Regions from separate parts of the Homo sapiens genome. Here region 1 is reported to be linked to region 2. Evidence: microRNA targets listed by miRTarBase, many of them from high-throughput screens and not tested one by one. Region 2 holds a microRNA gene; the other region holds the end of a gene's coding sequence.
Evidence for each region. The annotated mature microRNA hsa-miR-3663-5p reads GCUGGUCUGCGUGGUGCUCGG and lies in region 2 at 956-976, shown strand. An mRNA with a match to its seed (bases 2 to 7 or 8) in the 3' UTR can be bound and repressed. Matches are read on the target gene's strand: a 7mer-m8 pairs with bases 2 to 8, a 7mer-A1 pairs with bases 2 to 7 and ends in A, and an 8mer does both.

Region 1 (3,098 bases), not on the chromosome of region 2:
ATAAGTCAATGCATAAAAAAAACTAAGTTGGGCACATAGCATTCTTATGACTATCATTCTTACTATTACTCCTACTGTTACTATTATTGCCAGATCCATCATCCCCAAGGAGGGATGCTGAGTGTCAGGATTTCCTCACCATTTTCCTAATTAATTCTTTCCTCCCCTGTTCACAGGATGACACTCCTGTCCAGGACACTAAAATGTGAAGAACAGCTCATTGTGCCCCAGTGATGAAGTTGCTGGACACATCTCTTTGCAGGTAGCAGCAACAGTTGTAGCAGCAGCAGACGAAGCCATTGCAGAGGCAGAATATGCTGAGTGTCTGGAGTCAGCCTGAAGACACAGGGTGGATTATTTCCTGGCCTCCACACCAAACGTTCCCTTGCAGATGGAGACTGAATCTGAGGGCAGCAGACTTTTATCAGCTTGAGTTTATGTCATTTGATGGACTTGGTTCAACAACAAGAACTTACTTAAAACAATGTACTGTGGTGATGAGTCCCAGGGGCACTGGTCAGCCTGTGGAGCCCTGGATGCTATCCACACCCACCTATCCCTGCAGCTAATTTAGCTGATCTCTAATTTAACTGAGCTCTAATTTAGCTGATCAGATTTTGCTTGGGTAAAGTTCCTTTTTAATGTTCTAAAGTGTTTACGGTTCTCAAATATCAGTTAAAAACTAATTTTAGGTGGCCATAAACATAAAATAGAAACCCTGTAAGTTACAGAAGACCCTAAATTGTATCAAAACCCTAGAGACAACTTTTCAATTTGATCCAAATTTGAACTGGCCAACCAGTCTTTAAAACACTGGACTAGAAGAGATAATGATTGAAACATTTAAAAAAAAAAAGTGCTCCATTCGCAGGAGCTTTTCCTGTCCTGTGGTTTTCCAGTTGGTGACCACCATGGGAGGTCGCTGGCTCGGCTCACTCCCTTCTCCCACCCTTGAGAATGTGGAGAACTCCCATGGAGAGGCAGAATGGCAGGAGGTTTCATGTCCCGCGTTGCATCTCCTCCTGAAAGAAAAGCAGTGATACCTGAATAATGCTGGCTCTCCGATTGATCCTGTGAGGATGAATTTGCATTTCCAGAATCCTTGAGCATGGATTAGATGTTTCCTGGGAGGTGCCTTGAGTACCATTATGTGCAAGCTACATAATTAAAACATTTTTCTTAGTTTCCCTGGGAAGCTTTTCTTGACTCACAGCCCAGGTTCTTCTGCCCAACACAAAAGGAGTGAGTTGGGGTCTTTAGTCTCTTCTTATTGGGTAGCTCTTGCTTTAATATTCTGTTTGGTGAGTGTAAGGGATTCTGCAAGGGACAGGGGGCCTGACTACCCAGTCTTTGACTTGTATCCTCTCCCCTCTTCATACACTCCTGCTGAAAAATGTTAATCCAAATACACATTTAAACTTAGGGTCGGTCCTTATTCTGATTTGAGTATTTTAATGTCTCAGTGTGCTGATTTGGTAGTTGGAAGAATTATTCTTCTGGAGGTCTGTTAGACTACATCCTACACTGACTTCAGAAAACAGTCTGTCAGACAAAAAGGCCTTATGTCACCACTGGTACCTCAGTTTCCTCATCCCATTTACAGTTTTTCTAACTCCAGGGTAGTGTTTAGTGTTAATATTTGGGATATATTTTTTTTCAAAACTGTTTTTAAGTAGTTTGTAATTTGTAACAAACTTGTAACCTGGTTGGGACTGATATTGTCATAGCTATGATAAACTTTGGATATTAGCAGAATTTGGGAGATGTGTGTGTCAATTATTTTGAGATCTATAAACTTGTCTGTCTATCTATCTAGCTGGCTAGCTTGCTATCAATCTAGCTACCATCCATTTATTGACAGAGAAGTCTACCCCTAAACAATACTTGGTTTTATTTATATATGTCTTTGGGTTGTTTATACACATGCACTATCTGGGCAAGTACTTTGTGAATATGTGCATGATTGTGAATGTGTGATGAAAAGGGCCACTTTACTTGAGGAAGGCATGGAACAGAAAGTATGGGGTTTAGATATGAAAAATGAAACTGCATTTTTCTTCTGGAGGGTCTAAACATAGTAGCAGACGAGAGAGGGGCAGTAAAAATGACAAGAATGTGACATTGCGGCACCATGCTTGTGGGCATCAGAATACCTTTCTATCCCCCAAGTCTCCTGTTAGTCACATTATTTGGTGTATTTTGTGAAAAAAATAGAGGCCCCATTCCCAGGGCTTGTTCATTAATAAAGGGGGCTCTTGGCAGGGAACTCATGAAGTACAGGGACTGATTTTTGTTGGTGCTGCAGCCCCACTGCTTAAAACTCTCCTTTCTCAAAGCAACCATGATCAGGTGTTTTATTTGCATGGTTGATACTGGAACTTCTAAATTTGGGATTAAAGAAATTCATCTGTGTCTTAGGTAGCACAAAGTTATTAACAGGCCAGGAAGACCTTGTTTCTTTCAGGCTTCCATAATGGGTTTGAAAGAAAACACGGATTCTTCTACAGCAACAGAGTTAAAGAAATAGTCATAGTCATTCTTCCACGATCTTTGTAGTCTAGCTTGAATTTCAAACTGTGTCCTTCCTTACTCCAGAGAGGGAGCAAGAAAAAAAACCTGGATGCTTTGAAGGGATCTGCCACTATTTAAAAGGGGATTAGGATTCTGTTTCAGCTGCATGTGGAACTAGGTAAGCTTCAGTGGCCTCAGAACTCCAGGCCCCTCACGGAGATCACCCTGAACAATGCCCAGTTTTTCATGCAGGTTTTGTCCTATGACCAGTTAACTACATGTTCAATAAATAAATGTCAAAGAAATAAATGCGTGAAAAGGCAACCAGTTCATCATCTTATGATTAGGTTTTCTTGATTAGGGATGTGTTTAGTACAGCTGAATGAACAAGTTCACCCAGCTGCTGGTGACAGAAACCCAACTCAAACTAGCTGATGAAAAACAGAACTATACAGATCAATGAATCTCTCCCCCTTTTTCAGCCTCATAGAACTGAAAAAAACAAACCTAAATACAGTCACCCAAGTGATGTCAGGAATCTCTCATGGTATTGGTCTCTGCTTTCCCTCGTATTGGCCATATTCTTT
Region 2 (3,098 bases):
TTCAGATGCCAACAGTTCTCCACCCCTGAACTTGAATGGGCTTTGGGTTTTTGTTTATTTGGGGCTTTTCTCCTCTTCCAAAGCACAGCGCTTGCCCCCAGCGGCCTGGCGTCGGGCTGGAGCCCGGCAGAGGGAGGGAGGAGACCGGCATCCGCGCTCGCTGATCAGAGAGAGCCGGGCCTGCTGCTGGGGAACGTGGAGGGGCTCCGGACAGCCACGCGCCCTGGCCGGTCACGGAAAGCTCTGAGGGACATTCGGTCGGCCGTCGGGGAAGAGGCTGGCCGCCGCAGCGCGAACTGGGGGTGCGGGTGGAGCGGCTAGAGGCGCCGGGGTGAGTGGGGATGGAGCCCCGAGGGCGTGGTGCGCGCTCGGCTTCCTGCCGCCAGGGGGCGCCCACAGGCAGAGCCGGGCGGGGCGGCAGCTACAGAGAGAGGGGTGCGTGGAGAGCGACCAGGCCAGGCCTGCAGAGCGCAGCCCCGGCGCCATGTCTCCAGGCTCGTTCCGACTAGTGTTGGGTCACCCTCGGCTCAGCCCCGGGGGAGGACGAAAGGGTTGCGTGCAAGGCCTAGCACCCAGTGGCCATTCATTAAATACGTGCTGGCTGACGAGCTCAGGAACGGCTCTAGGGAGCAGCTGGCTCGGAAACCTCAAGTCCAAGCCCACTCATTCCCGTCTCCCTCCCCGACGGCCTTTTAGTTACCGTGCCCTGGGCCGCGACGGCTTCCTTTTAGATTGGGGCAGCAAGGGAGCCCCTGCGCAGCGAGGACGCCGACGGGGCGGCGGGGAGGGGTTGTCCGGCGGTATCCCCGCTCCGTGCTCCTCGCCTTCCACTGCCTCCCCGGGACACAGCAGTCATGGCTTCGACTGTGACTTCTTAACTGGCTCCTCCCTGATCGCTGAGCTAAGCCACAGGAGAAGGGGAGGAGGGCTTCCTTCCCGGGACCTTGGTCCAGGCGCTGGTCTGCGTGGTGCTCGGGTGGATAAGTCTGATCTGAGCACCACACAGGCCGGGCGCCGGGACCAAGGGGGCTCGACAAGAGGATCTCAGAACAAGCTGAGTCTCTGGAACTAGCTGGGGTGCGTGGAAGTACGCGCCACGGCCCGCGATTCCTGGGAGCGTGTCTCAACTTCTGCCAGTGCCAACGCAGGAGAGAGAATTGCGGCTCAGAGAGGGTAGCGTGAATGGAAACCGAAGGGCGAGAGCTTGGCTCTCTAATGCCACCCAACTTAGTGGTTCAGAGCTTGGCCTCCAAGGAAGATTCAGTTCAAGTCCCCGCTCTCCAACTTACCAGCTGTGTGATCTTGGGGGAAGTTAACCTCTCTGAGTCTGTTTCCTGCTCTGTAAAATGGAAATTTAAAAACTTAAACATCTACTTCGGTCGAGGCTGTTGTGAAGAAGTGGGATTGTGGGTGCATAGCTCTTAGCACAGTGCCTGGCACAGGTTAAGGCTGGATACGTGGCAGCTGTGAGGCCCAGTGTTCTCGTAGCTGGCCTGGCCAGATGCAATCATAAGCGAAGATGACTCACTTCCCACAGCAGAGGTGTGCGAAGCCCTGCGCACCTGCTGTAGTCTGCACCCGGGCAGAAGAGAACCCAGGAGCGTCGGGACCTCCAACACTCAGCCCTCAGGGCTGAGGACACTGCGCTGTTTCTGCCCCTTCTAAAACCGGAGGCCGCGATGCCCCTGTGCAGTACCGGCTGGCGCCCACCCTACAAGCTGATTCCTGGGGGCCTTTCCTGCAGCGGACGCCGGCAACCATCACGACCGACCTTGACTGAACACATGTGGGCATCCTAAGGACATTACCTCAATCCTCACACCATTCCTGAAAAAAAAAAAAACAAAGAAACTGGTGCTCAGAGAGGCGAAGTAACTCACTCAAGGTCACACAGCTAGAGGGTGGCCAAGCTGGGACTCCAACCCACTCTGGCTCCGGAGCTGGCGCCGCTTCCTTCCTACCTCTCTATCAAGCTCAGTCTCAAAGCCTGGGACAAACCATCCGGTTGGGGTGGGAAAGGCCACGCACGTCCTGGGGTCGAGGACCCTGTGCCCACGACAGCAGTCTTCTCGGCACCCGTAGAAGCCAGTGCCAGACAAGTTGGGTTGGAAGGGGCAGGCTGGGCTGGCGGAAGGGGGCTCTGGGCCCCGCCCTGCCTGCGCCCCCCGCGGATCACGCCTCCGTGCTCAAGCTCCTGCCAAGTTTGCCCCCATCTCTCAGGTGCCCTTGGACTGAGTGACTAAGCACCTCGGCACCTCTCCAGCCTGGGGTGCGAGGAGGGGCTGGCCCTGATACCCACTTCCTTTCTTCTCTGGAAAGCCAAGGTGCCAACGAAAGATGCCCTGGAAGCTGGTGTTCCTTAAAGAATGAACAGTCCCAGCTCCAAACGTGTCTCTCTGAACGCAAGCCTCTTCCTTCCGTTCGCCTGGGCCTGTAGTCGAAGTCTCCTTGGGTCCCCAGCCCCCTCCCGGGTAGACGTCAGCCTGGAGGTGGATGCCGGAGTCGAGAAGGGTTGCGGACCATGCTGGGGACCTGGCTCAGGCAGTCAGGGGTCCGGGTCCTCTTTGGGGAAGTGAGCGCTTGAGGAGGAGGGAGAAAGGCTTTTGAGTACGGCTTGGGGGGACTTCTTGAGGTCCCTCGGGATAGCTTCTCTGTTAGGCGTGTAGCCAGGAAAGGAGAAAAAATCTGTCCCGCGCAGCCCAGGGAGGAGCCTTGCAGCTGCGGAGGGGGGCACTTTCGGCGCTGGATACCAGGGGGCAGTGCTGCGCAGCGAATCTGCCGGGCTCCAGCCGGCAGCCCGGGGCAGCAAGTTTGCTGAATTCCCTCTGTCTCTCGAATCCGCTACGAAGTTCCTCCCAGGGCGCTCCTGACGCCAACAGCCCCCTCGCCCCGTAACATGCGAAAGAGGGCACGGTCCTCTCTGTCCGCGCGTTGCCGTCGGTGCGGGCGTCCTGGCTGTCTTTCCTTGGTAAAGGCAGCTACCACCGGGTTGGTTTTTGACCACTGACTTGGCCCTAGGGAAACGTAAGGTGGGGTGGCGGGGTGCCCCGTCGGGTTTTTGCAGGCCGTGTGAGCAACCTCAGAGTAGAGGTTTGAGG

Region 1: miRTarBase lists RCSD1 as a target of hsa-miR-3663-5p. The part of its 3' UTR that is shown has no 7-base or 8-base seed match.

The regions. Positions count from the first base shown.
Region 1 is chr1:167,704,488-167,707,585 of GRCh38, forward strand. It overlaps RCSD1 (RCSD domain containing 1), which reads left to right. Exons shown (of 7, transcript NM_052862.4): 7 at 177-3,098. The coding sequence ends at 209. Among named protein-coding and RNA genes, the nearest start is that of TRP-CGG1-1, 8.7 kb to the right of the region's middle. RefSeq lists a silencer at 785-1,079 and an enhancer at 2,661-2,860.
Region 2 is chr10:117,165,612-117,168,709 of GRCh38, reverse strand. MIR3663 (microRNA 3663) reads left to right here and starts at 936; the gene lies at 936-1,032. All of the region lies in intron 1 of MIR3663HG (MIR3663 host gene), which reads left to right. RefSeq lists an enhancer at 2,563-3,098.